5 separate regions of the Homo sapiens genome follow, and all the other regions are linked to region 3. The links come from fine-mapping of genetic effects on gene expression. A gene starts in region 3. Each other region holds a variant in brackets. All regions are shown on one strand. Distances are between the middles of the regions. Region 1 has its middle 10 kb from the start of PARVB. Region 2 overlaps PNPLA3 (patatin like domain 3, 1-acylglycerol-3-phosphate O-acyltransferase). Region 3 holds the start of SAMM50 (SAMM50 sorting and assembly machinery component). Region 4 overlaps SAMM50 (SAMM50 sorting and assembly machinery component). Region 5 overlaps SAMM50 (SAMM50 sorting and assembly machinery component).

The links. PIP is the estimated chance that this variant, and not a neighbour inherited with it, causes the effect.
Region 1: its variant is fine-mapped to the expression of SAMM50 in cerebellar hemisphere (GTEx, PIP above 0.99).
Region 2: its variant is fine-mapped to the expression of SAMM50 in ileum (GTEx, PIP 0.99).
Region 4: its variant is fine-mapped to the expression of SAMM50 in whole blood (INTERVAL, PIP 0.91).
Region 5: its variant is fine-mapped to the expression of SAMM50 in whole blood (TOPMed, PIP above 0.99).

What each region holds. Positions count from the first base shown.
Region 1 is chr22:44,011,002-44,017,225 of GRCh38, forward strand. It overlaps a transcript of PARVB not described here. Among named protein-coding and RNA genes, the nearest start is that of PARVB, 10 kb to the right of the region's middle. The variant ATC/A (reference allele first, on the strand shown) is at 3,044.
Region 2 is chr22:43,927,843-43,932,842 of GRCh38, forward strand. PNPLA3 (patatin like domain 3, 1-acylglycerol-3-phosphate O-acyltransferase) reads left to right here. Exons shown (of 9, transcript NM_025225.3): 3 at 982-1,047. Among named protein-coding and RNA genes, the nearest start is that of PNPLA3, 6.5 kb to the left of the region's middle. The variant A/G (reference allele first, on the strand shown) is at 2,026.
Region 3 is chr22:43,952,384-43,958,403 of GRCh38, forward strand. SAMM50 (SAMM50 sorting and assembly machinery component) reads left to right here and starts at 3,059. Exons shown (of 15, transcript NM_015380.5): 1 at 3,059-3,215. The coding sequence starts at 3,195. It also overlaps the pseudogene RPL35AP36. RefSeq lists enhancers at 2,284-3,036, 2,704-2,753, 2,834-2,913, 3,037-3,788, 3,594-3,803 and a silencer at 2,877-3,151.
Region 4 is chr22:43,994,083-44,000,161 of GRCh38, forward strand. It overlaps SAMM50 (SAMM50 sorting and assembly machinery component), which reads left to right. Exons shown (of 15, transcript NM_015380.5): 15 at 2,256-2,447. The coding sequence ends at 2,301. It also overlaps a transcript of PARVB not described here. Among named protein-coding and RNA genes, the nearest start is that of PARVB, 27 kb to the right of the region's middle. RefSeq lists an enhancer at 2,098-2,267. The variant G/C (reference allele first, on the strand shown) is at 2,457.
Region 5 is chr22:43,981,844-43,986,843 of GRCh38, forward strand. SAMM50 (SAMM50 sorting and assembly machinery component) reads left to right here. Exons shown (of 15, transcript NM_015380.5): 12 at 2,090-2,157. Among named protein-coding and RNA genes, the nearest start is that of SAMM50, 29 kb to the left of the region's middle. The variant A/G (reference allele first, on the strand shown) is at 2,286.

The DNA.
Region 1 (6,224 bases), 59 kb after region 3:
CTGCCTCAGAGACAGGGTTTCACTGTGTTAGCCAGGATGGTCTCGATCTCCTGACCTCGTGATCCTCCCGCCTCGGCCTCCCAAAGTGCTGCGATTACAGGCGTGAGCCACTGCGCCCGGCCATGCCTGACTAATTTTTTAAAAATATTTTTCATAGAGATGGACTCTTGCTGTGTTGCCCAGGTTGTTCTCGAACTCCAGGGCTCAAGTGATCCTCCTGCCTCAGCCTCCCAAAGCCCTGGGATGAAGGTGGGAGCTGCACGCACCTGGCCTGCTTACACATCATCTGTGGCTGCTTTCAAGCTACAATAGCAAAATTGGGTCCTTGTAGCCAGGCACGGCGGCTCACGCCTATAATCCCAGCACTTTGGGAGGCTGAGGCAGGTGGATCACTTGAGGTCAGGCGTTTGAGACCAGCCTGGCCAACATGATGAAACCCTGTCTCTACTTTATACAAAAGTTAGCCAGGCGTGGTGGTGCATGCCTGTAATCCCAGCTGCTCGGGAGGCTGAGGCAAGAACATTGTAAGCCTGCTGGTGCTTGAACCTGGGAGGCAGAGGTTGCAGTGAGCCAAGATCACACCACTGCCCTCCAGCCTGGGTGACAGAGTGAGATGCTGTCTCAGTAAATAAATAAATAAATAAAATTTAAAAAATTGAGTCCTTGCATCAGAGTCTGTCTGGCCCCTTACACACCCCTGCCGTAGACCACTGTGTCTTCCCTGGCCACAGCAATGTTCTCATGATGTGCTATGGCCGCCACATCCTTAGCTCCAGCATCGTAGAGCAAGTTCCCTCCCACAAAGCCCTACACTTCAGTTCTCCCCTACCCCCGTCATCATTCTCTCCTTCATCCAAAACACCACTCTCATCCCCTCACTGCTCTCAAATTGGGTGGGAGGAGAAAATAAAAACCTTTCATTTTGCAAGCAGGTGATACCTGGATGGCAAATGAATGGCAAAAGAAATTCAGACTAAGGTGTGAATGTCTAATAGACTTGGCCTTTGTTCTCCCACCCACCTAAGAGGTCCTGGCATGTTTCAAGGAGCTTGCTCATCCCCCATTTTCTCATAGCTGGTCAGAGGGGAGTCTTTTTTTAAAGGGGGCATAATCTTTGGGGGACTTTCCCAGTTTTCCCCCATGGAAGACTAGGAACCAATAACTTGGTACCATGTTATTTATTCCTTCTTCATCTATAAAATATTTAAGGGAACAAAACGCATATGTGGTTTACTCTGCCTGGTATGCAAAAAGAGAACTCGGAGGAATTGCTAATAAATGAAAATCCAACTTCCCTTGTCTCAGAGTTTGCTGATGCTTCCAAAATCATTTGAGTGAAAGACGGTTGATCAGTGTAGTTGGTGATTCATGTTCTGCTCACACGTGGCATGGGCAGAAGTGTTTCCATCACAGTTTTAAAATTCTAGGCAAGTCTGGTCATCTCCTCCTGCTCTTAGTATTTACTGTGAACATCGCAGGTTACTCTCTTGCCAGATCACTAAATTAGCAGACTGATTAAATAACACCATTTCAAAATGCTAGTTTAGATATTATGGTTACAGCGTGCTTGAAAACCCTACCCCAAAGTGCAGTAAGATTGCCTCAAAAGTATAACCTGGGGGAAATAAGGCATTTTCTCCATCGCACATCAATTAAATATTTCCATCACTTCTCTACACACTTCTAACTCGCCTAAAATTGCTTGGAGGTCTGAAAATGAACAACACAAGAAGACATTTCACAGTCTTAAGTATTCCCTGGAATGAGTTCCCTTTTCTCTCCCAAAGAGCTACAGGCGGTTTTTATTTATTTATTTATTTTGAGAAATATCAGCTTCTTTTTAGTTCTATTAAAGAGAAGTGAAAGAAAGCTGACAAGCTTTATTTATTTAACTTTTTTTTTTTTTAACTTTTTTGAGACAGTCTCGCTCTGTCACCCAGGCTGGAGTGCAGTTGCGCGATGTCAGCTTACTGCAACCTCCACCTCCCGGGTTCAGGCGATTCTCGTGCCTCAGCCTCCCAAGTAGCTAAGACTACAGGCACGCACCACCACGCCCGGTTAATTTTTTTGTAGTTTTAGTAGATAAAGGTTTCACCACGTTGGCCAGGCTGATCTCAAACTCTTGACTTCAGGTGATCCGTCTGCCTCGGCCTCCCAAAGTGCTGGGATTACAGGCGTGAGTCACCGTGCCTGACCGCTTGCAGCTTTTAAGACCCTCTTTAAGCACTTAGAGTGCTGCCATGTTATCCAGAAGGAAACTCACACATGTAAAGAATCCAAATTATCCCATCCAGGGGTATCACGTATTGACTTTCTTTTCCCCAAGAATTTATTGTGGTCTAATTTATATAGAGGGAAATGCACACGTTTCAGTGGAACGTCTGTTGACTTTTCACGTTTGTGTACACTGTGTGACTACCACCAGATCAGGCTGCACATCACCCAGCCAGCCTGCTGGTGCCCATATGCAGGGGAGATCCTCAGTGCCCCTCACCACGCCGGCGAAGCCACTATCAACACAGAACAGAGGTCGCCTGCTCTTGAACTTCAAATAAGTGGATTCACGCAGTCTGTGCTCTTTTGCATCTGTCTGGCCTCTTTCATTCAACATAATGTTTTGGAGATACACTACATTGTTCTTTTTTTTTCTGGATGGAGTCTCACTCTGTCTCCCAGGCTGGAGTGCAGTGGTGCGATCTCGGCTCACTGCAACCTCCACCTCCTGGGTTCAAGCGATTCTCCTGCCTCAGCCTCCTGAGTAGCTGGGATTACAGGTGCCCGCCACCATGCTCAGCTAATTTTTGTATTTTTGGTAGAGACAGGGTTTCGCCATGTTGGCCAGGCTGCTCTCGAACTCCTGACCTCAAGTGATCTGCCCACCTCGGCCTCCCAACGTGCTGGGATTACAGGTGTAAGCCACCATGCCTGGCTCGGTGTAACTTCTATTGAAAAAGATTTTTCTCAGCACTCTGGGAGGCTAATGTGGGTGGATAGCTTGAGGCCAGCAGTTTAAGACCAACCTGGGCAACATAGCAAGACCTCC[ATC/A]TCTGTTTGAAAAAGAAAAGAAGAGAAAAAGATCCACATGTAAGTGGACCTGCACAGTTCCAGCATGTATTGTTCAAGGGTCCTGTGTTTGGGTACTATACACAGAGGAACAATGTTTCCGTTTGTTCAAACACACTGGACTCAGGTCCCTCTTTCTGCAGGCCCAGATTCTCCAAGGCAAGAGTGTGGGTAAGGGAGGTTGACTGAGATCACACAGTGCAGCCCCCAGCATGGGGCACAGAGTGCATGCAGCACCAGCTCAGGAAATGTTTCCTCCTTGTCCTTAATTAAGATTATATGGAACTGGCCTCTTCAGAAGCCACAGTTCAAAAGCAAACCAAATGGTTTTCTTTAATAGGGGCAGCTGCATGTAATCTGATTTTCATAATCATTCTCCAAGTGTACAATGTATGCATAGCCCTGGCACGAGGCATATGTGGGGAGCATATTAAGAAGCAAAGACGGCATTGATGGAGAAGGAGCTAAGTTCATATTTCTGCATCTCATTAAATTCTCTCTTTTTATTAGAAAGTGGCACTTTCCAATCTTGAAGTTAATATTTATGTTTGCTGCTCTGCAAAGCAATTTGGAAAGTAGTTTTAGTGAGATTACCCCAGAGAGAAAGCTAGTTATGTAAACTCCACAGGAGCCAGGCCAGGAAGGAGGAAAGTTTTTCCGGTTTGATCATTGTCCTTCCTTCCTCTCACCTTGAAAAGAAATACAACTTAGTCCACAGCCATCAAGCCAGTTCTTGATTGTCATCTGTAGCACATACAAGACAAAAAAATCATTACAACAGACACAACAATTTTTTTTTTTTTTGAGACGGAATCTCACTCTGTTGCACAGGCTGGAGTGAAGTGGTGCAATCTCAGCTCACTGCAACCTCCGCACCCTGGGTTCAAGCAACTCTCCTCCCTCAGCATTCTGAGTAGCTGGGATTGTAGGTGCCCGCCACCATGCCTGGCTAATTTTTGTATTTTTAGTAGAGATGGGGTTTCACCATGTTGGCCAGGCTGGTCTGAAACTCCTGGCCTCAAATGATTGGCCTGCCTTGGCCTCCCAAACTGCTGGGATTACAGGCGCGAGCCACTGCGCCTGGCCCAGACACAGCAATTAAAAAAAAAAAAAAGTTCTAACCTGCATTTAATAATGATACAGGAGATAGAAAGAAATTATTTAGACAGATAGTGAGGGTGAAAGAGTCCTTGACAAGATCTCTCTTCTAATAAAAAGCAGCCCCCAAAATTATTTTTTTTCTAACAAAGAGCAGCCTGAAAAATCAAGCTGCAAACATAGATAAACATGCTAAAAACTTACATGGGTGAATGCAGACAGCTGTGCCAATAGAAAAGGGCTACCTGGGGCCAGGCGTACCCAACATGAAGACTCCATCTTTCCTTTTCTGTTGTTACCACGTATACAATAAAGAAACGAACAACATGACACTGGCCAGACAGAGAATCCATCTACATAATACATAGGATTGGGGCTGGGCGCGGTGACTCATGCCTGTAATCCCAGCACTTTGGGAGGCTGGGGCGGGCAGATCACCTGAGGTCAGGAGTTTGAGACCAGCCTGGCCAACATGGTGAAACCCCATCTCTACTAAAAATACAGAAATTAGCTGTGGGTGATGATGCACACCTGTAGTCCCAGCTACTTGGGAGGTTGAAGCAGGATAATCATTTGAACCCAGGAGACGGAGGTTTCAGTGAGCCAAGATTGTGCCACTGCACTCTAGTCTGGGCAACAAGAGCAAAACTCTGTCTCACAAAAACAAACAAACAAAAAAAGATTAGGGTGCAGACAGCCAACTTTTAACACCTTATACAAATGATACACCTAGCTCTAACCAGTTTTTCACGCCTTATACAAATGGCACACCTGGCCCAACCAATCGTTTGTGCCCTATGCAAATCAGACACCACCTTCTCAAACTAATCTGTAAAATCCCCTGACATTTCACCATGGAACCAACAACGCATTTTTTTGGGATTTCTCTCTGGGCAGAGAGCTCTTCTCTGTCTTTTTCTTTTTCTTTCTTTCTTTCTTTTTTTTTTTTTTTGAGATGGAGTCTCGCTCTGTCGCCCAGGCTGGAGTGCAGTGGCGTGATCTCGGCTCACTGCAAGCTCCACCTCCCAGGTTTACGCAATTCTCCTGCCTCAGCCTCCCGAGTAGCTGGGACTACAGGCACCTGCCACCAGGCCCAGCTAATTTTTTGTATTTTTAGTAGAGACGGGGTTTCACCGTGTTAGCCAGGATGGTCTCGATCTCCTGACTTCGTGATCCGCCCGCCTCAGCCTCCCAAAGTGCTGGGATTACAGGCATGAGCCACTGTGCCTGGCCTAGCTCTTCTCTTTCACCTATTAACTTCCACTCTAAACCTCACTCTCTGTGTGTCCATGTCTTAGTTTTCTGTGGCTGTGAGACAATGAATCTCGGGTATCACCCCAGACAAATGAGGCCACTTCAATAACACATCATCCTATCCAAGTGTAAACATGAAATTCGCTTATGTTTCATATACACCTTGTACACAGAGTCTGAAGGTAATTTTATACAATATTTTAAATAATTTTGTGCGTGAAACAAAGTTTATGTACAAGAGATATTACAGCTGAAGGGGGCTGGAAGGGTCTTTTTTCCCCTGGGGCTGCTGAATAAACTGTGTGTTATGTGCCTGGTGCTTCAACTGTAACCTGTCATGTGAGGTCAGGTGTGGAATTTTCCACTTTTGGCATCACGTCAGTGCTCAGAAATGTTCAGATTTTGAACCATTTCATTAGGGATGTTCGACCTGTGGCTGTTTTTACTTCCCCATTTTATTTTATTTTATTTTTTTTGAGATGGAGTTTCACTCTTGTTGCCCAGGCTGGAGTACAATGGCATGATCTTAGCTCACTGCAACCTCTGCCTCCTGGGTTCAAGTGATTCTTCTGCCTCAGCCTCCCGAGTAGCTGGGATTACAGGTGTGCACTGCCATGTCCAGCTAATTTTGTATTTTTAGTAGAGATGGGGTTTCGCCCTGTTGGCCAGGCTGGTCTCGAACTCCTGACCTCTGGTGATCTGCCTGCCTCAGCCTCCCAAAGTGCTGGGATTACAAGTGTGAGCCACCGTGCCTGGCCACCTTCCCCATTTGAGATGTGAGAGGTAATCCACCCTAACCATAAATTAGT
Region 2 (5,000 bases), 25 kb before region 3:
AAGTAATCTGCCCACCTCTGCCTGGCAGTTACAATTTCAAATAATTCCTCCCTTTCCTTCAACACTTGGCTCATGACCGTCCAGTCCAAGGAACCTGTCCTGCAGGTGTGCCTCTCCCGAGCTTCCTCTATGCATCTTCCATAATGAAGATGCCTTCTCACTGGAAACCCTACAAGGGTGGGAACGTGCCTTATTTGCCTGTATCCTCAGGGTCTAGCAGAGAGAAGATAATTTGTAATACCAAAACACCATTAAATTCAGCTGATGCTTTCATAAGCGCTCCTTGGAGGAAGGACTCCATTTACTTGACAGATCTGTGCAAGACAGCAGCCTGGCGCGTCTAACCTGCAGCCAGTTGCATCCTCTGTTTAACCTTGTTTGCGGAAGCTTTCTCTAAACAGCCAGCACTTGTCTGTTCCCACATGGGTCCGTTCTCCCAGTGAATCACCGTGGTGCCTGCTGACTGCTCTGTAGCACAGTGCTTCGCAAAGTGTGATCCTGGGACCAGCAGAGCAGCAGCTCCTTTGAGCTTATTGGAATGGCAGACCCTCAGGTCCCACCTCTGACCTGCTGCATGGGAATTCTGGGGAGGGACGCAGAATCTCTGGTTCCACAGGCTCTCCGGTGATGCTAATGAATACCGGCATTTGAACAGCACCGATCTAGCCCCTTTCAGTCCATGAGCCAACAACCCTTGGTCCTGTCTGTGGTGACCCAGTGTGACTCTCATGGGGAGCAAGGAGAGGAAGTTGAAGTTCACTGACAGGGTTGTTAAGGGGATTATGCAATAGATGAGACCCATGGGCCTGAAGTCCGAGGGTGTATGTTAGTTCCCCGTTCTTTTGACCCATGGATTAACCTACTCTGTGCAAAGGGCATTTTCAAGTTTGTTGCCCTGCTCACTTGGAGAAAGCTTATGAAGGATCAGGAAAATTAAAAGGGTGCTCTCGCCTATAACTTCTCTCTCCTTTGCTTTCACAGGCCTTGGTATGTTCCTGCTTCATCCCCTTCTACAGTGGCCTTATCCCTCCTTCCTTCAGAGGCGTGGTAAGTCGGCTTTCTCTGCTAGCGCTGAGTCCTGGGGGCCTCTGAAGTGTGCTCACACATCTCCTGCCTGCAGGGCACTGGTGTCGGGCACCTCAGGGTCTGTCCCATGGTGGAGCCCCATGCCTCACTGCCTTTCAGACAGAGTAGCCACAGCTGGCCCTATTTCCAGGCTACCCGGGCAGCAAAACTTACTGCATGTGTAATTAATTATTTGGCTATCTGTAAGGTAAACTGGCTGGTTCACTTAATCTGCACCTTAAGCATCAGATAGCTTCTCAGTGATCTAGTTAAACTATATGATGTTGGCCAGGCGCGGTGGCTCATGTCTGTAATCCCAGCACTTTGGGAGCCTGAAGCAGGCAGATCACTTGAGGTCAGGAGTTCGAGACCAGCCTGGCCAACAGTGTGAAACTCTGTCTCTCCTAAAAATACAAAAATTAGCTGGGCATGGTGGTGTGCACCTGTAATCCCAGCTGCTCGGGAGGCTGAGGCAGGAGAATTGCTTGAACTTGGGAGGCGGAAGTTGCAGTGAGCCAAGATCGCACCACTGCACTCCATCCTGGGTGACAGAGCGAGACTCTATCTCAAAAAGAAAAAAAAAAAAAAGGTAAATAAAGTATATGACACTGAAGAATCTGTTACCCCTGGAAGGTGGAGCTTTACTCTTAGGGGGAACTATAACAGTCATATATATATATTTTTTTCTTTTCTTTTTTTTTTTTTTTGAGATGGAGTCTGGCTCTGTCGCCCAGGCTGGAGTGCAGTGGTGCAATCTCGGCTCACTGCAACCTCCACCTCACAGGTTCAGGCAATTCTCCTGCCTCAACCTCCCGAGTAGCTGGGATTACAGGTGCCTGCCGTCACGCCAAGCTAATTTTTGTATTTTTAGTAGAGACAGGGTTTCATCATATTGGCCAGGCTGGTCTCCAACTCCTGACCTCAGGTGATCCGCCCGCCTTGGCCTCCCAAAGTGCTGAG[A/G]TTACAGGCGTGAGCCATGGTGCCCGGCCAACAATCACATGTGTTGTAAACAACAACAAAAATCTGTCAGCCTGGTCTAACCTAGATTTGTGCTTTGTTTTGTTTTGCCACTTTGTGATGCACAGGAGGAAGTTTAGGCTGTAAAATACTAGCCTTTTAGGGTAATTTTTGAACTCACAAGAGCAGCAGCGGAACCTTTGATGCAATCCTGTATGTAGCACCAGCAGAGCCACGTGGCAGAGGGACTCGCATTAGGAGCCTCCCATTACAGACTACGTGCTCCTGTGCGTTATCTTATAGGGTCCCCACAACCAAGGGGAGATGTGATTATTCATCCTGTGTGGCTGTGGGGAACTTGAGAGTCATACTTGCCCAAAGAGCACGGCCAGCGAGCTTGCACCCAGGTCACTCTCTGCTCCTCTGTCAGAACAGGGCATGTCTTGGTTCACTGCAGGGCGGCTCTTCTCATTCTCTGTAGTTTGGGGTCCAGGATAGTGGTCCACGGAGCCACTGGAGTGCCCAGCTACTGAGTGACCAAAGCATATTTTGGATTTCCGACATTGCCACAGCATGGTTGGGCATCAGCAGGACCCCAACCCCTTGTTATGCTGGTGGCTTTATGTGGTTATTTGATCTTCCCCAGAACTCAGCAGGAGTGCACCCAGCAGCACCGTAGTGATGCTCTCTGGCTCCCCAGTGCACGGTTCTGGCTTTCCTTCCTGGTCGAGAGTTTCAAGCCCTCTGGGTCCTACTCTGTCCTTTTCAGCCCATAGCTTTGTTCAAAAGCTGCTGGCAGTGTTCAGATTTGGCTGAGTTCAGTGAATATGTGCATTGGCTGATTTCTGAGCCATGCCAGGGGGATGGAGAAGCCGAAGCAGGAGTGTTTGTTCTGCAGGCTCTGGAGTAGGCATTGGGTCTGTGCCGGCTCACTTGCTAGTCTTGCATCCTTCCCCAACCCCCTCTGGGGATGTCTGGCCACATCAGAAGACAGTTTGGGTTGTCAGAACTGGGGGAGTACCAGGCCGAGGTGGGTGGATCATGAGGTCAGGAGATCGAGACCATCCTGGCTAACACAGTGAAACCTCATCTCTACTAAACATACGAAAAAAATTAGCTGGGCGTGGTGGCGGGCGCCTGTAGTCCCAGCTACTCGGGAGGCTGAGGCAGGAGAATGGTGTGAACCCGGGGGGCGGAGCTTGCAGTGAGCTGAGATCCTGCCACTGCACTCCAGCCTGGGCAACAAAGCGAGACTCCGTCTCACAAACAAAACAAAACAAAACAAAACAAAATCTGGGGGAGTGCCACTGGCATCTGATGTATAGAGGCCCGAGATGCTGTGTCATCACCCGTTGAGTGCGCTCATAGGCATCTTCCTGACAATTAGAACCCATTATTCTTCAAATTCAATGCAAGCAAATTCAAAGCATTACTGTGTACATACCGCATGCTAATCAATTGCACCACTGGAGCTCCTAAATTCAAAACATTACTATAAAAAAGTTCAAAATGCATGGAAAAGTTGTACATGGCAGGAGAATATTTGGGCTTCTGACTACCCCTTGAATGAAGATGATCCACCAGCCGCCTTCCTCCTTGGTCTTCACTCCAGATTCCTAGCATTTCATTCTGTGTCTCTTTATGCAGTGAGGTTTTTGTTTGTTTTTTGAGACAGAGTCTCACTGTATCACCTAGGCCTGGAGTGCAGTGGCGCGATCTCAGCTCACTGCAACCCTCGGCTCCTGGGTTTAAGCGATTCTCCTGCCTCAGCCTCCCGAGCAGCTGAGATTACAAGCACACATCCCCATGCCCAGCTAATTTTTGTATTTTTAGCAGAGACAGGGTTTCACCATGTTGCCCAGGCTGGTCTCGAACTCCTGGCCTCAAGTGATCCATGTGCCTCAGCCTTCCAAAGTGCTGGGATTACAGGCGTGAGCCACCATGCCCAGCTCCTAGTGAGGTTTTTGATGCCTTGCTACATCTGCCCTAGAAATTGTGTGACTACGATTTTGGAAATGTTGCTGTGTAAACTTGTGATCATTTCTGGACTCCAGGCAAGAATCTTGATGGCTAAGGTGTGGCTGAACATGTCTGATTCTCTCCTGGACCTGTTTTAGGCCAAACTCTGCTCTGAAATTCCTCCGTGTGGAAGGGCGGGCTGGGGAGAGCCTCCCAGCTGGAATCTTTTGGATGCCTTTCTCTGTGGGTATCTGATGGCTGGCTCTGATGGCTGGCTGTGATGGCTGTGGCTGGAAATCATTGTTGACATGAGTTTCACAGATGCAGGCTCTGTCCAAATTGTAGCAAAAGCTGCCTGCCCCAGCCGAGCTATGGGCAATAAGGTGGTTTAAGGATATAGATGAAGGAAAACTCACCCTTAGAATAATTTATCCAAAATGCTGCTGTGTTGTGGGTTAGAGGACATTTTCTGAGGTCCCAGGTTCATTGTTTCATTTAAGTCTCAAAAGTCCCTCCAGGTGTTGGTTCTAATTGTCAAAGCATGGGGGGAGATGGGCTCATGGGTTAAAGGTCTTATCCCAGATTTCTGTATCCTCCTTGCAAGCAGCAAAGGGGTCTGGATTTGAATCCATGACCATGTTTCTCCTTTGGGTTTCCATCACACTCTGTCCCCGTGCACTGAGCACCCTTTAGTTCATATGACCCCCTTAGGCATGTTACATGGGCACTCCTATAGGTGCCCATCTGGCCCTAGGACTTGGCCAACACAACATGGACTCCAGTTTCCATCTGCCTCTTTGCCAGGCACTTTTGTGCAGTGCACACACTGTACAACAGTAGACGGCAACCCTGAGAGCCAGAGTAGAGCCTGTCCTAGCACCGGAATGCTCGGTAAGGATTTGTCGCAGGAGTGATTCCAAAGCCAATGTCCTCCCTCCATATCAGCCTGTTTGTGGCTCTGAGAAGCTCTGCCCACATGTGAAAGCTTGTTAAGCACTTAAGCACTAACCCAGAGCTTC
Region 3 (6,020 bases):
CCCTGAGTCACCCTGCTTCCCGAGGGGACCTCCACCCAGGGAATGCCCTTCCAGGCTCCTCTCACTGATTCACCTTCACTCCTCAGAGGTCAGGTGCTGGCTGATAGAGGCAATGAGGTGAGCCCCTCACCTCAGGGCGCTCAGCCCCTGGGAAGGTGATGAAAAAGGGCACCCCAAGGGGTGTCCCAAACTAATAGGTGGATGACTCCCGTGGGAAGATCCAGTCTCCCCTCCCCATGGCCAATTAAATTTGGGGTGTTTTTCTTTACTTTTTTGAGGCAAGGTCTTGCTTTGTTGCTCAGGCTGGAGTGCAGTGGCACAATCACAGCTCACTGCAGCCTTGACCTCCTGGGCTCAAGCAATCCTCCTCCTTCAGCTTCCTGAGGAGGTTTTAATTAAATAAATTAAAAGCTAATTAAAAACATTTTTTTTTTTTTTTGGTAGAGATGGGGTCTCACTGTTTTCCAGGCTGATCTTGAACTCCTGGACTCAAGCAATCCTCTTGCTTCAGCCTCTGGAGTAGCTGGGACTACAGGTGCTTGCTACTATGCCCAGCTATTTTTTTTATTTTTTATTTTTATTTTGTAGTGATGGGGTGTGTTTCCTAGGCTGATCTTGAACTCCTGGGCTCAAGCAATCCTCCTGCCTCGGCCTCCCAAAGTGCTGAGATTATAGGTATGAGCCATTGCACTCAGCCTGGATTGTATTAAGGAAACTAGCTTAGTCACTAAACTGCACTTCTACTTCTGATTGGACAAGATTGGCACTTTGTAAACCAGGTTTTCTGGGATGCTGGTTTCCTTGAAGATGTTTCTAGCTGGTATTATCATATAGGATAGGCTGAGTTATGCTGCATTAACAAGCAAAACCCAAAAGGTTTATTTCTCATTCGTGCTGTATGTCCAGCAAATGTGGCTGGGCTTCATTTTAAGTCGTCCTCACTCCCAGACCTAGCCTGTAGGTGCCCCACCATTGGGGGATCGCTGATTGCCATGGCATGGTTAGAGAAATATGGTTCTTAAAGGTTCTCATCCAGAGTGGCACATCTCTCTTCTGCTCACAATGTGTTGACCAAAGCAAGTCACATGGATGGGAGCAGGGAGATGCAATCCTCTCTTGTGCCCAAAAGAGGAGCACAAGAAATACTGTTGAATAGCATTGCCAGAGGCCACAGAAAAATCTCCAAAACCAAAAATCTCTATGACCCAATAAATTCAAGAAATACTGGGTTAAAGAGAAGGAAACCAGTATATGCACTGTGAGACTTCTCAGTCTTTATTATATACATTGTAACCATCACAGACAGCCTTTAATATATACATCTTAACTATCACAGACAGCCTTCAGTATATTATATACATTATAACCATCACAGACAGCCTTCAATATATTATATACATTATAACCATCACAGACAGCCTTTAATATATACATTATAACTATCACAGCCTTTAATATATTATGTACATTGTAACTATCACAGCCTTTAATATATTATATACATTGTAACTACCACCGCCTTTAATATAGTATACCCATTGTAACTATCACAGCCTTTAATATACACATTGTTAACTACCACAGACAGCCTTTAATATATTATATACATTGTAACTATCACAGATAGCCTTTAATATATACATTGTAACTATCGCAGACAGCCCTTTGTTTGAGGGTAAAGCATGTGACTTTGTTTTCCTCCTGTTCCCTCTGCCATCCTCCAGGGCCTCACACACAATAGGCTCTCAAATATTGCAACCATCTTGCACTCTGCAGGGCAACCTCATGGCTTATCCTTTACAAGTGGCATACTCAGAAGAATAACGAGGAAGAAAGTGTAAGAAAAGAGGGCTGTTTGGGCAAAGAAAATCTGGTTGATTCGATGTTTACAGAGTGCCAGGCCCCATGCTTGATCTCATGAGGTCCTCAGACCTTATGCCTTAGGCTATCATTTCCATTTTACAGATAAGGAATTGAGGCTCAGGGAACTGAGAGTGAGGGAAGGGCAGGGGCCTGGCTGGTGCTGGGTTCTGTCTCTTTCCAGGCAAGAAGGGACATGTGGACTTGAATATTTAGCTCAGGGATGTTGGAGGCCTAGGGTGCTGCTATTTAAATGGAAAGGGTGTCAGGGTTTCTGGGAGGGAGTAAGGGGACAGAAGAAAAGATGCTTCTGTTATCAGAAGGGAGTGGCAACGTGACAGGATACTGAAGCTTCCTCTTTTCTTATTCTGTCTCGTTTCTTTCAATATACTTATCACAATGTGTGGCTGATATTTATTATGCCTTTTTCTTTTCTATTCTCTTTTCTTTTTTGGGGCAGGGGAGCTGTTTTGCCACCAAAACCTAAGCCCATGGCCGTCTTCTTCACCGATATGACTGGTTCTCATGCAAGCACCTAGATGGCCCTCGCCCATAATTACTGGCTGCAGTTGAGTGAATAGCGGTCATTATCTAGCGCCCACCGTGTGCCCGGCCCGGTGCCGGGAGCTTTGCTTTCCGTCTCTCACATTAGGCCCTTTTAATCCAACCCCCAAGAAGGAGACACGACCATCGTCTTCATTTTGACGATTTTGAGTGGGGGTTCCAATGACTTGAACGAAAGGAGCCAGGGCACCAATCCGGGTTTGTGTAGCAGATGCCGGTGAGACCCGACTACTGCAGCTCGGGGGTGGCCGGACCCGGGGTCTCCCCGCTGAGTCTCGGGGCTTCACCGGCGCGTGGGCACAAGCACAGCACCCTCGGGTCGGGGGTGCTAGGAGGGCTAAGAGCAGCAGGACTTGAGTGACACCCAACAGCTGGTCTGATCTCTTTCAGGCGCCAACGCCAGACGCCAGCCTCCCAGCGGACCCTCTCGCAGACCCACCTTCACCCCACGCGCCCTCCCCACACAGTCCACGCGCCAGCAGCTTCGCGGATGTCAGTGAACGCTCTTCGCTTGCGCAGTCAGAACGTCCTCCGCGGCCGTGTGAACATCCGGGTCACAGGCGCATAAGGACCAATGAGCGAAGGCATCGCGAGCCAGGGGGCGCGGAGAAGGCGGGGAATCATGGCCGCCCCCAGTGTTCCGCGTCCGGGGGTTTGTGGGAGTTGCCTTGACCTGCAGCTCCGCCACCGCGGACCCGCCTTCTGCCCTCAGCAGCAGACGCTCTGTCCCGCCCGGGCAGCTCTGCGAGGCAGCGGCTGGAGAGGGAACCATGGGGACTGTGCACGCCCGGGTAAGAGGCCCAGCGACCCGCGGGCTGCGAGGCCTCTGGGCCAGCAGGGCAGACGGGCGCCGCGGGGAGACGCTCTCGTGGCTGCGCCCAGGGTTCACCGGGAGAGAGGGTGCCAAGGGTGCCGGGCTGGGTGGAGGAGGCCGAAAAGAGGTCGCCTCGGGCCAGCGAGTCTTGCAGACCTTCGAGCAGGAACCTGATAGGAGGGACGAGACTTGGCTAAAGGTCACTCGGCGAGTCCGTGGCCCAAAGGACTTGCCAACTTTCTGTGATGTCTTAGACCGCAGTGAATGTGCTCTTTCTTTGCATGATTTTAAGTTTTCTCTCTTTACTGGTCACTTCCAGCCTTTCCCCGCTCAGCCGCTGCTGGAGCCATTGTAGGCTCCTAGAGCAACAAGAATCCTTTGAAGTCTTCTAACTCAAACCTATCTAGGGGTCCTCTTTTCTCCTGTCTACCGTGCAAAAGACGGAACCGCTCTCTGCCTTACTTCCTGTTTTAAAGTGGAGGTAGTAATAGTACCTACCTCGCCTGGCTTAAAAGAGAATTAAAAGACAATGCATGTGAATACTTGGGTGCCTGGCGCCTGACTAACTGTACTGGTTGCCAAACTCCTCTCGTTTATCCTAATCTTAAATAAGGGCCAGATAATGAGTTACTTCTCCAAGGTCACATAGTTACTGGTTCCAAATGGCCTAAAACCTCAGATTTCCTGAGTCTCAGCCCCAACACTACTTTTCTACTGCAACTTTGATTGCTTCACTTGACCTGCATAGACGTTTTCAGTAGTTCCCCATTAACTTCCAAAAAAATTTAGCACAGAAGTCGCAGCCTGACATCGATAATTGGACTTAACTTCCCTTTATATGTCTTTCATTCAGATCAAACACCGTTTCTCTTCTGACATCTCTTTGTGTAACTGTAATAGGTCTGTTGCTCAGTGTGCTCGATAAGTCAATACACTCAGACAGTGGGTTGCAGCAGAGAAAGAGTTTCAGTTGCAGGGCCGCTGAACGAGGAGATGGGAAAAGAGAGGAAACCTCAAATCCATCTCCTTCAGGAGTTTGGACCTCATGTTTTTGCTGAAGTGTGGAGATCCTTGATTGGTGGAAGAGTGAAGGGTGAAGTTATGGGACAGGGAGATGAGGAAACTTCTCATGCTGATTCCGTTCCTCTGTTGCGGGGAGGAGTCTTCAAACTGGTTGGCAGCATCAGTTTTGCTGGAATTCGAGATCTGAAAAACATCTAAAGCAACTCTTAAGCAAAAGCCTTATGATTCTAATTTTAGAAATCCTATCTGTAAAATCAATGGGGATGCAAATAGTATCTGTGACTTTTGGTTACTAGCAAGTAGGTCAGAGTGCAACCTGAGCTCTTCCTGCCATCTTGGCTCCTGTGGCGGCCTGCCGGGAGCAGGACTTCTGAAAGGAAATATGTCTGGAAGGCTGTGGTCCAAGGCCATTTTTGCTGGCTATAAGTGGAGTCTCCGGAACCAAAGGGAGCACACAGCTCTTCTTAAAATTGAAGGTGTTTATGCCCGAGATGAAACAGAATTCTATTTGGGCTCATGTATACAAAGCAAAGAACAACATAGTGACTCCTGGCGGCAAATCAAACAAAGCCAGAGTAATCTGGGGAAAGGTAACTCGGGCCCACAGAAACAATGGCATGATTCGTGCCAAATTCTGAAGCAATCTTCCTGCTAAGGCTGTTGGACACAGAATCCGAGTAATGCTGTACCCCTCAAGGATTTAAACTAATGAAAAGTCAATAAATCAATGTGGATTTGTGCTCTTGAAAAAAAAAAGGCAACTTGATTAATGGTTAATTGTAACTACATTTCTTTTGAGATGGAGTCTCACTGTGTTGCCCAGGCTGGAGTGCAATGGTGCAATCTCCACTCACTGCAACCTCCGCCTCCCAGGTTCAAGCGATTCTCCTGCCTCAGCCTCCCATGTAGCTGGGATTATAGGCGCACGCCACCACACCCAGCCAATTTTTGTATTTTTAGTAGAGACGGGGGTTTCATCATGTTGGCCAGGCTGGTCTTGAACTCCTGACCTCAAGTGATCATCCCGCCTCGGCCTCCCAAAGTGCTGAGATTACAGGTGTGAGCCACTGCGCCCAGCCAATTATAACTACATTTCTGTCCAGATGTCCAGAATAATTTTTTTTGTTGTTGTTGAGACAGAGTCTTGCTCTGTGCCCAGGCTGGAGTGCAGTGGCACGGTCTTGGCTCACTGCAAGCTCCACCTCCCAGATTCACACCATTCTCCTGCTTCAGCCTCCTGAATAGCTGGGACCACAGGCGCCTGCCACCATGTTCGGCTAATTTTTTGTATTAGTAGAGACGGGGTTTCACTGTTAGCTAGGATGGTCTCGATCTCCTGACCTTGTGATCCGCCTGCCTCGGCCTTCCAAAGTGCTGAGATTACAGGCATGAGTCACCACGCCTGGCCTTTGTCCAGAATTCTTGTTAGCCCTGTGAGGATGGCTTTATTTGGACCGCACTATTGCACTTCATTCCCCCTCCCATCATCCATCTTTAGCATCAAAATATTCCCATCTTTTAGAACTCCGTTCTGAAAGTTCTTTATCCCCTGCATTTGGATGGGCTTCGCCTTTCCGTGCCATTTCCTTTGGTGCCATTTACATTTTGGCTTGTTTTGGGTCTGTTTGCATTTTCGTCTTATCCTTTGATCCTAAATTTCTAGATGTAATGGTAGGAACTGCATCTTCTTGGCTTGCATCCCCTGTGGCATCTTGAACAAAGTAATCACTCATTATTTATTCAGCTCATATTTATTGAT
Region 4 (6,079 bases), 42 kb after region 3:
GGAGGGTGCTGAGAGGGCCCCCTGGAGCAGGTCCCTGAGCTGAATCTTCCTAGAGGACAGACAGCCAGGTGCTTGCAGAAGACACGCAGGGACAGTGGTCCTGGCTAACAAAGGCAGGAGCAAAGCTGTGCAGGTGTGCGCTGTCGGCGGGCACCGGGCAGAACCGCGTCCTACAGGAACAGAAGGGGGAGTGGGGAGGTCCAGGCCCTGAGCTCCCACGCCTTTGCCTTCCAGCCCCGCTGACCTTTTTCCCCTTGGGTATATGCCAGGGTCTTTGAGCTCAGGACTTCATCTGCCTTGTTCACCGCTGAGGTCCCCATGACTACAACTGCACCTGGTGTTGGAAGTGAGAGCCAGGTGGAGAGGCTCCTGGCGTGTGGTGGGAGGTGGGGTGCAAGGCGCCAAGGGTGCTGTTGGCATGACCTTCCTAAAGCACCCCATGCTGGGTGCTTCCTGGCCTCCAGCCTCAGAGTCCAAGTTCGTCAGAAGCCTTTGAACATCAGACTCCAAGACCCTGTGCCGGCAGTGGCAGTGCTGGGTGAGAAGAAGGTGGGAGATGACCAGGAGCCCTGCACCAAGACAGCGGCCGTGAGGGAGGGAGAGAGCGTGGGGTGCACAGCAGAAGGTGGATGTTTGGGGCTGTCTGGAGGATGCCAAGGCTGGCTTGCCCCTGGTCTGGTGGAACTTCGCAGCGCTGCTTTGAATGTTTGCAGTGGGTATTTTGTTCTGTGACATGTTTATGTGGTCTCTGAGCATAAACCTATGCTTGTGAAGTTGTTTAATCTGTTTGTTTGTACTTAGAGTGACAGGCCTTTATTAGAATGCTTGCTTGTTTTCTGAATTACATATGCCAAGAGCTTGACTTCCTTTTTAGCTCCTAGCTTATGTTCAGGCATTTTTCTAAGTAGCGAATGTAGGTATAGACTAGTTTGAAGGAGCTGAGAGTGTACAATCTAAAAACAGATCTGAACACAACTAAATGGTACAAATGCAGCCCGGGTTTTGATGTGGATTCTGGTGTTTTAAGGCCATGGATGTGGCTTACTGTAATCTTGAAGGGGCTGCAGTCCTGGCTTCTGGTGAGAGGACTGCAGTGCCGGGGCTGGTTAATAAGCACCCTTCATCCTGCAGGAGGCCGGCGCAGCATTTGTGAGTATCTGTGTTGAATCTCTTCGTGGATCAGATATTGTGTCTTCTTGCTCAGAGTCAGGTTGGAAAAGGAAAACTTGCCGCCGGTGTGCATGTGCTCCAAATCCTCAGCTTGGGCAAGGGCACGGGCGTCGTGAATAAAGGAGCCATTCTTGCTGGCCTTTTCTAGAAATTGCCCACAGCTTGCAAAAAGGCTGTGTTCCCTGGCCCCGGCTGCGGCTGTGTAGGAGTCTGAATATCATTTTCCCCAGAAGTTGAGGTCCCTAGGTTAGGCCCACCTTGTCCCAAATGGGCAGCATTGGCCTTGCCCCATGCACAGGCTCCAGGCGGACAGAGCTGCTGCAGGCATGCTGTCAGGGGGACAGGCTGCCCCCCAGCTGTGCATGGCAGTGTGTCGGAAAGAACAAGGCCTGTGGGTGCCCCTGAGCCGGGTCTGGAGTCCTGTCCTGCCACTTCTCAGCCGTGTGACTGGAGCCTCTTTGCTCCTCTCTGAAAATGGGTCTGGTGGTTTGTTCCCAGGTTCTTAACCACTGTGTGGAGTCACACCTGCAGAAGGTCAGCTCATAACAGATATGGCAACCAATGTGACCTTTGCATCCTTCCTTCCTGGGGTCAGGAGCAGGTCTAAGAGGTGGTCAGGCTAAACCCCTGTAGGGCTGTGGGTACTGCTGGTTTCCTAAGCCCCGGGACCTTCTGGGGGCCGGGCGGACCTTAAGTTCTGTCCACCTGCCTCTCCTCCATCCTCACTACCCACCTTGTCCTTCCGGCTCCTTCCCTCCCTGCTCCGCCTCTCATCGGCCCTCTGTCCTCTCCGTCCGGAGAGGGGAACGTGAAGGAGGTGAGGAGGGAGTAGTGCAGGAGGATTTGGGTCTCTCCTTCTTTCCCTTTTCCATTCTCCGAGGGCTTAACCAGCTGGTGAAGGTTCTTAACCAGCAAAGGAGGAAGCAGCCGGGGCCGGTGAGGGTGAGGCCGGCAGCCAGGCAGGAAGGCAGCAGGAGGAGGAGGAAGCGGAGGCGGCACCTTCTGAGAGGCGCATGCTCAGTGAGTCGTGAAGATGGCAGGGCTGGCGGAGCGGCCGCCGCATCTGATCTCTCCCCTTTTTTTAGGATATGTGATGGCGTCCAGTTTGGAGCTGGGATAAGGTTCCTGTAGCCGACACCCCTACAGGAGAAGCTCTGGGACTGGGGCAGCAGCAAGGCGCCCATGCCACACACCGTCTCTCGAGGAAACGCGGTTCAGCGATTCTTTGACTGCGGACCCTGTGGGAAACCCCGTCAATAAATGTTAAAGACACACTCCGAGGCAGC[G/C]TGGATGTGGTTTGCTTTCACTCAACAGTATGGCCCGCGTGGCCTTTCCCCGGGACCACCCGTGTTCTCACACACCCGCCCAGTGTCTGCGAGTCTCCGTGTTTGGTTCCCGTGTACCAGACATGATGTATTCAGAGCCAGGCAGCAGGAGGGAGCTTTGCCCCAGAGGAAGCTCAGCCATGCTGTTACGGAGAGGGCGCGCTCCCCTCGATGCACCAGCCGTTGTCAGAGGAGGCCCACGGCAGCGGGCGCTTGGAGCCACAGTGCTCGAGCCATTTGAGTGTGTGAGTGGCAAGGGAGAAATACCCAAACCGTGTAACATTAGGGACACTGAAGCAAAGACGGAGCCTGGTGTCTACAGACGAATGGCAGCATGAATGAGTGTGCGTTTTCTGGGGCTGCTCTAAGTCACCACAAACGTGGGGGCTTAAAACAACACACATTAATCCTCTTGTAGTCTGGAGATCAGAGTCCAGAATGGGTCTTGCTGGGCTGCGTCCTCCTGGAGGCGCTAAGGGGAAATCCCCCTCCTTTGCCAGCAGTGAGAGGCACCACATTCCTTGGCCGACGTCACCTGCATCTTTAAAGCCAGCCATGTGGTGTCCCCCATCTCTCCCTCTTGCCTCCTCTGCGTCTCTGCTGTCTTTGAAGGACCCCTGTGGTGACCTCGGATCTGCCCGGGGAATCCAGGGGTCTTATTTCTAGGTCAGCAGATGAGCGTCCTTAATTCCGTCTGCAGACTTAGCGCCCCCTTGTCATGTTATCGTCACGTTTACACGATCCAGGGATTAGGAGGTGTGCGTCTTCGGCTGGGTGGGAGTGCGGGACATTATTCTGTCTCACACAACTAGTATCTCTCTAATATTTGGGGGATAATCTTAAATTGGTCACACATAAAAAAAGTTTTTGAAGAACGTGAAACCTCCTTTGAATTGAAAAAGTGGTGCCATATGGAAACGTCTAGTGTTGCAGGTGATGCCCCGCAGGGCTTCGCACATGCATTACTCTCCGATTTTTTCTCTCTCTCAGCTGGGGCTGAGTCCCCGTCACTTTCAGTCCTCCCCGTAACTTGTTGTTTATGTCTTTGCCAAATGACCTGAAGATTTGGGCCTCAGTCTGGGGACCCATGTTATCCCTGGGCCACACTCTCAGGTGCCCCGGGACTGTCTCGCCCTCATTACCTGCAGAAGCTGCAGGGATTTTACAGAGAATATATAAAAAGAGACAGTTTTGGTTGGGCGTGGTGGCTTGCACCTGTAATCACAGCAGTTTGGGAGGCCGAGGTGGGTGGATCATTTGAGGCCAGTAGTTCAAGACCAGCCTGGCCAACATGGTGAAACCCCACTTCTACTAAAAATAGAAAAATTAGCTGGGCGTGGTGACAGATGCCTGTAGTCCCAGCTACTCGGGAGGCTGAGGCAGGAGAATCGCTTGAACCCATGAGGCAGAGGTTGCAGTGAGCTGAGATCCCGCCACTGCGCTCCAACCTGGGCGACAGAGTGAGACTCTGTCTCAAAAAAAAGAGTTTTGCCTTCCTTATAATAGTTAGGAACATGGAAAAATGTGCTTTTTCCCCCTAAATGATTTATTCTTTACAGTTTCACGCTTATGCCTTTGAGAAAACCAGAAACCCATGTTTCAACACTGTCATGATCAGACCATCAACTTAGACCAGTGAAATCTGAATAATACAGACTCAGCACTATGATCTTTGAGAAATCATCTACTACATCAGTGGAGAACCCAGCGAAAGGGTCACCTGAGAAAAGTTACCTGTTTAATCAAGCAAGTCTGGGGTACCCCAGGTCGCTACAGCCAGCTCCTTAATGAAAGCTCACCAGGGCCAGCTGTCTCTCGTGCGGCTGCAGCGTGTTTAATTTGCAGGTGGACTCCGCGGGCTGCTCCTCCACAGGTGAAGTGAAAACAGTGGAGGTCCTGGGTGAAAATGCGGGTTCTGTTCATCCTCAGAAGGTGGTAAGTGGGCAGACTAGAGCGTGAAGCCAGAGGCACTTCATCAAGTGCTTTCCACAAAAGACCAAAAATAAGGCACGTTCATTGTGGGAAGGAATTTCATAGCTGCTATTTTAGAGAGCTCAGAGAGCAAAGAAAGATGGAAAGCCTCACAAAATCCCCCATGAAATCCTCCCTTGGCTCAGTGATTCTTTGCATCTTAATGTTACTCCGTTTCTTCTCTAAATACCTCAATTTTCTGGACTGGAAGAGAGCTGGGTATTTGTTTAATTAACCTCTTGCTTTACTCGGCGAGGGATGGGCCATGAAACCAGTGGGCTGCTTCCGCTGAAGAATGCTGCCGGCTCCGTGCCGGAAGCCTGCTGGCTCGGTCATCTTCCATTTGTAACAAGAAGATTGATTTTAGTGAACCTAATCTTCACAATGCTTCTGGAAGAACAGCTGTGATGGATCACTCCTCTGTTATCGTGAATCTGCGGTGCTCTCGGTACACACACTGTGACCTTTAACAAACGGTTTCATCAGTGGTGTGCCTGCCACACTGTGCCACAAGGCTCTTTTGTACCTGGCTGCTGTCTACAAGTCTTATGACCCAGTGAGGGAGCAGACTGTTCTGCCAAATGCCATCGCTACTAGGACAAAGGACAGTCACCTGGTGAGGATCTGCCATCAGGCCACATTTTCCCATTGGGTGACTCCTGCAAAGGCCCTACACTTTGACGTCCTCCCCATCTCCGGCAGCTCCTTAAACTAAGAACTCATTTTAATTTCTGAATTCTCCCTTTTTAAAGACCAGATAAATTTACCTTTGGGACAGTTAGATGTGCACAAATGCACCATGTGTTTAAAGATCACCAAAGAGGAGAGAAAAGGGGATTCCTTAGTCCAGAGAACAAAAACTGGTGAGCTGTGATTTAAACAAAACGAATGTTGTTAAAATCAGGTTGTACTCAGAAGTCCAAATTTCTAGCTTCTCTTGAGAAACTGGATCCGACAAACAAAAAATGTTCATTCCTACCTGCAGCAGGAGGCTGGAGCTGAGACGTGGGTGTTCCTGCAGCTGGGGCCTGTGCTCCCAGGCACTCATGGCTTCTCTGGCTGGTTCACTTCTCCCTGGCTCAGACAGATCAGGAGTGGAAACATCTGAATATGCTCAAGGAGGAGGTAAGTTTTGGGGGAAAAACTGTCAGAAAGTGGATGAGGGCTGGGTGCAGTGGCTCATGCCTGTAACCCTAGCACTTTGGGAGGCTGAGGAGGGAGGATTGTTGCTTGAGCCCAGGAATTTGAGACTACTCTGCACAACATAGTGAAAACCCATCTATATGAAAAAAAAAAAAAAAAAAAAAAAACAGCTGGGTGTGGTGGCATGCATCTGTGGTCTCATCTACTTGGGAGACTTAGGTGGGAGGATCACTTGAGCCCAGGAGGTTAAGGCTGCAGTGAGCCGTGATTGCACCACTGCACTCCAGCTGGGGTGACAGAGCGAGACCCTGTCACAAAAAAAAAGAAAGAAAGTGGACTAGCAGTGAGCCCAGGGTCAGGGGCCCTGGCTCTTGCCCTGTTGGGGCTGTTTACCAAATCCACTCACTGCTTTCCTCAGGTTTTTCTTCTACCAAAGGAGAAGATCTTGGTGTATTCAGCAATAGATTCCA
Region 5 (5,000 bases), 29 kb after region 3:
AACTTTTTAGCCTACCGTGTATTTTTTGATATTTCATTGGTTTCTAATTTGTGATTTTTGTAAATAACATTGTAAATAATAACTTTTAAGATAACTTGTTGTTTATTTTATTTTCTGTGGTATTACTCTCTCAAAGTAAAACTCATAGTATTGCTGGGTGCTGCTTTTAGGAAGCTTACAGCAATTTATACCCCTACCAGCAGGGTATGAACTTGTACTTGTTGCTTCGAAATACTAATCATTGTCCTCTAGGGCAAAAAAACTTTTTTTTCAACCCTGCATTAGTTAAAATATACTGGTACAGCTTTTTTGGATGGTGGTTTGGAAGTAGAACAATTTTAGGTTTATAAACTCTGGATCCTAACAGTTTCACAAAACTCCATGAATCTAATTTACAAAAGTACTTTTCTAAGTGTGTAAAGATTTATGTGTAGAAGGATGTCCATTGTAGCATTGCTGATGAATAGCAAAGAATTTGAAACTGCCTTATGTAAGTTCCGCAGTAGGGAAATGGTGAAATTCTAGCACAACCATTCCAGATCTATGTAATTATTAAAAATAAGGAGATATGTGTTCATAAGTTAACATTTTGCACATGAATATGTTTAGTGGATCCCTTTCCAGCGTGCATGCAGGTGTAGCACCGAGGGCCTGGGAAGCCAGCCACCAAAACAGTGACGGTGGGCACCCCAGAGCCTGGGATGCAGCAGGCAGAACCATTTCACTCGTTATGTTATATGCATCCTGGATCATTTGAATTCAAATGTGTGATTTATCGTTTCTTTTTTATTTTATTTATGTATGTTTTTTGAGACAGAGTCTTACTCTGTCACCCAGGCTGGAGTGCAGTGGCACGATCTCGACTTACTACAACCTCTACCTCCCGGGTTCAAGCTATTCTCCTGCCCCAGCCTCCCAAGTAGCTGGGACTACAGGCACCCGGCACCACGCCCAGCTAATTTTTGTATTTTTAGTAGAGGCGAGGTTTTACCATGTTGGCTAGGCTGGTCTCTAACTCCTGACCTCAGGTGATGCGCCCACCTCAGCCTCCCAAAATGCTGGGATTACAGGCGCGAGCTACCGCACGTGGCCTGATTGATCATTTCTTTAAAAACGAAGCTTGCTGTTTTTGCAATTCATGTTAATGGGGTATTCAGAAAAGCCTTGCTTAGAAATCCCAAGTAGTAAAAACATATTTATAGGTTTTAAAACTCAAATTAAAATGAAAAAATTCATAAAGGCTTTTATTTGGTAGGAAAACCAGAAAAAGCCGCGCCCTGTTCCCTTTGTGCTGTTGCAGACCTGCAGGGTGTTCTTAGCCTCCCGCGGCCTCAAAGGTCAGAGGGCTCTGAGGGCACCTGCCGGGGTTGTGTCCTTGGCTGCCTCTTGGCTGGAAAGATTACACAGAATTTCTCTTGTCATTTAAATTCATTTTTTAGTAATTATCATAATCTAAAATCGGGTTCTAATATGCTGTTCAATTTTTCAGAAAGTGGATGGGTTTTTATGTAATTAATTTTTAATTCACGCTTTTCATATTATTCAGATATGGTTGGTGAGAGTGTGACAATCCAGTTCATTAGGGAACAAGAGGAGCTCATATTTAAAAATTATAAACCTAACAAGAATTCTTTTTTGGTCTGTTTCTAGTATTATAGCCCCCCTTTTTGTAATATTGGGATTATACTATTAAATAATTTGTATCCTGCTCTTCTTCCCCTAATATCGCACTGTGAGCCAGTAGGAGGCCCGCCATGAAAAGGAACTGCGTCATGAATTCTCACAGACAGCTGATAGTTCCTTTGTGACAGACAGTTTGCCCTGCCCCTCTCTCCTAGTGTGTTTCTTGGCATCTTGTGTCTCACCTGCATCTCCAAAGTTTGCAGTGTCTCCTTAGATGTTGAGATTTTTATGAAATTCCCCTGTAGTGTGCACCCTCTTGGTCTTTCTCAAAGGTTTTGCCTTGTAAAAATGCTGTCGATAATCTAGTATCGAATGTGAGTCTGACATGTGTTTCCTACGCGTTCCGTGTGTCATGTCGTTTCTCACCTCCTGACTTTCCTCTGACCTGTGTGCTGTTTTGTCCTAGGTTTTACCTTGGGGGACCCACAAGCATCCGCGGATTCAGCATGCACAGCATCGGGCCACAGAGCGAAGGTCTGTCCTTTCCCCTCACGGCGCCAAGTCTAGAAGGCTCGCGTCTCACTTTGGAAACCATGTACCTGTTATTAGCTTACAGCGATAATAGACATTCCTCTTTCACGGTGGTGGAATTAGCACCTAAC[A/G]CAGAACTTACCATGTAGCAGGTGTAGAACATTTATTGAGAGAATTGTAGGAAAATGAGAAAATATATCTGAGCAAAAACTCTGTGAAAATGACCCGCAGTCCTACCCAGAGAGAACATGTGTAAACGTGTTGTTGTCTGTTCCCTGCAGGTTTGACATGTGCTTCCTACTCTTCCTTTGTTTACATATTATTATTTTTTTTGAGATGGAGTCTCGCCCTGTTGCCTAGGCTGGAGTGCAATGGCGCGATCTCGGCTCACCGCAACCTCCGCCTCCTGGGTTCAAATGATTCTCCTGCCTCAGCCTCCCAAGTAGCTGGGATTACAGGCACCCGCCACCATGCCTAGCTAATTTTTGTATTTTTAGTAGAGATGGGGTTTTACCATGTTGGCCAGGCTGGTCTCAAACTCCTGACCTCGTGATCCGCCTGCCTCAGCCTCCCAAAGTGCTGGGATTACAGGTGTGAGCCACTGGGCCCGACCCCTATGTATTATTATTAATATTATCATTATTATTTTGAGACAGAGTCTCGCTCTGTCGCCCAGGCTGGAGTGCAGTGGCACGATCTCGGCTCACTGCAACCTCCGCCTCCCGGGTTCACACGATTCTCCTGCCTCAGCCCCCTGAGTAGCTGGGATTACAGGCACACACCACCACGCCTGGCTAACTTTTTGTGTATTTTTAGTAGAGACGGGGTTTCATTATGTTGGCCAGACTGGTCTTGAACTCCTGACCTCGTGATCCACCGGCCTTGGCCTTCTAAAGTGCTGGGATTACAGATGTGAGCCACTGCGCCTGGCCCCTACGTATTATTTTTAAACCCATTTCTCTCATCACCTCCCATAAAAATGTAACAGTATATTTTTATGCGAGTAAATGCCATTTTTAACAGGTACATATTTCATATTATTGACATCCTATATTTTAGTTAATAGGCTTAATTTGTTAGAGCAGTTTTAGGTTTACAGAAAAGTTGGGCAAAAAGTACAGTGTTCCCGTATAACCCCCATAGCTTCCTTATTATTAGCACCTTGTGTTAGGATGCTTCATTGGTTAGGATTGGTGAAGCAATATGATAACCTTATTAACTCAAGGCCATAGTTTACATGAGGGTTCACTCTTAGTGTTGTACCTTCTGTGGGCTTTGACAAATGCATGATGTCCTGCATTCACCATTCCAGGATCACACAAAGTGGCTTCACTGCGCTAAAAATGCTGGGCTCCCTTCATCCCTCCCACCAGACCACTGGAAACGACAGGTCTTTGAACTATCCATGGAGTTTTGCCTTTTCCAGACAGTTTGGGAGTTGGGATCATACAGTTTGTAGCCTTTTCAAGTTGTCTTCTTTTCCGTAGTAATATGCACTTAAGGTCCCTCCATGTCTTTCTGGGACCCAATAACTTGTTTCTTCTTATTGCTGAATAATATTCCTTTGTCTGGAAGTACCACAGTTTGTTTGTCCATTCAGCTGCCGAAGGACAGCTTGGTTGCTTCTAGTGTTTGGCAGTGATGAGTAAAGCTTCTATCAACATTCACGCGCAGGTTGTTGTGGACAGCTTCTGGGACATAAGTTGTCACATCTGCTGAGTCAGTGCCGGGGAGCGCAGTTGTTTGGTCACGTGTTAAGAGCACGCCTCCCCTTTGTAAGGAGCTGCCAGGCGAGCTTCCGGGGTGGCCGCGTCCTTTTGCATTTCCCCAGTGAGGAATGAGAGAGAGAAAGTTTATCATCTTAATGGCTGCGTGTTTTGTCTTATGACACACTATTATCTTTTTAAAGACCAAATCCCAAGCTTTGGACATTGAGTTTGTGTTTTTTTTTTTCTTTTATGATTATAAAACAATGTATTCACCTTCGAACTGAATGTTGGTACTCATCTGTAAGTTTTATTTATTTATTTATTTTTTCTTTCTTTCTTTTTTTTTTTTTTTTTGAGATGGAGTCTTGCTCTGTTGCCCAGACTGGAGTGCATTGGCGCAATCTCAGCTCACTGCAACCTCCACCTCCCAGGTTCAAGTGATTCTCCTGCCTCATCCTCCTGAGTAGCATGATTACAGGTGCCCGCCACCATGCCCGGCTAATTTTTCTATTTTTATTAGAGACGGGGTTTCTCCATGTTGGCCAGGCTGATCTCAAACTCCTGACCTCGTGATTTGCCCGCCTTGGCCTCCCAAAGTGCTGGGATTACAGGTGTGAGCCAGCACGCCTGGCCAAGTTTTACTTTAATATGAAATTCTAGATGTGAAATCGCCAGATCTTTTAGGGCTTTATCGTACTTTCTGGGAAGGTTGTCTCATTTATACTCCTAGAACCGTCTCTGACATGCAACATCCGTCAGAGGTATCTCCACATGCTATGGAACTTTAAAACATCATTTAAGTGGATGCATATTATTCCATTATTAAACATTCTCCCCTGATTTTCTTACTTTTTTTTTTTTTGAGACGGAGTCTCGCTCTGTTGCCCAGGCTGGAGTGCAGTGGCGTGATCTCAGCTGACTGCAACCTCTGCCTCCCAGGTTCAAGCGATTCCCCCTGCCTCAACCTCCTGAATAGCTGGGATTACAGGTGCCCGCCATCACGCCCAGCTAATTTTTGTATTTTTTAATAGAGATGGGGTTTCGCCGTGTTGGCCAGGCTGGTCTTGAACTCCTGACTTCAGGTGATCTGCCCGCCTTGGCCCCCCAAAGTGCTCATATTACAGGCGTGAGTCACTG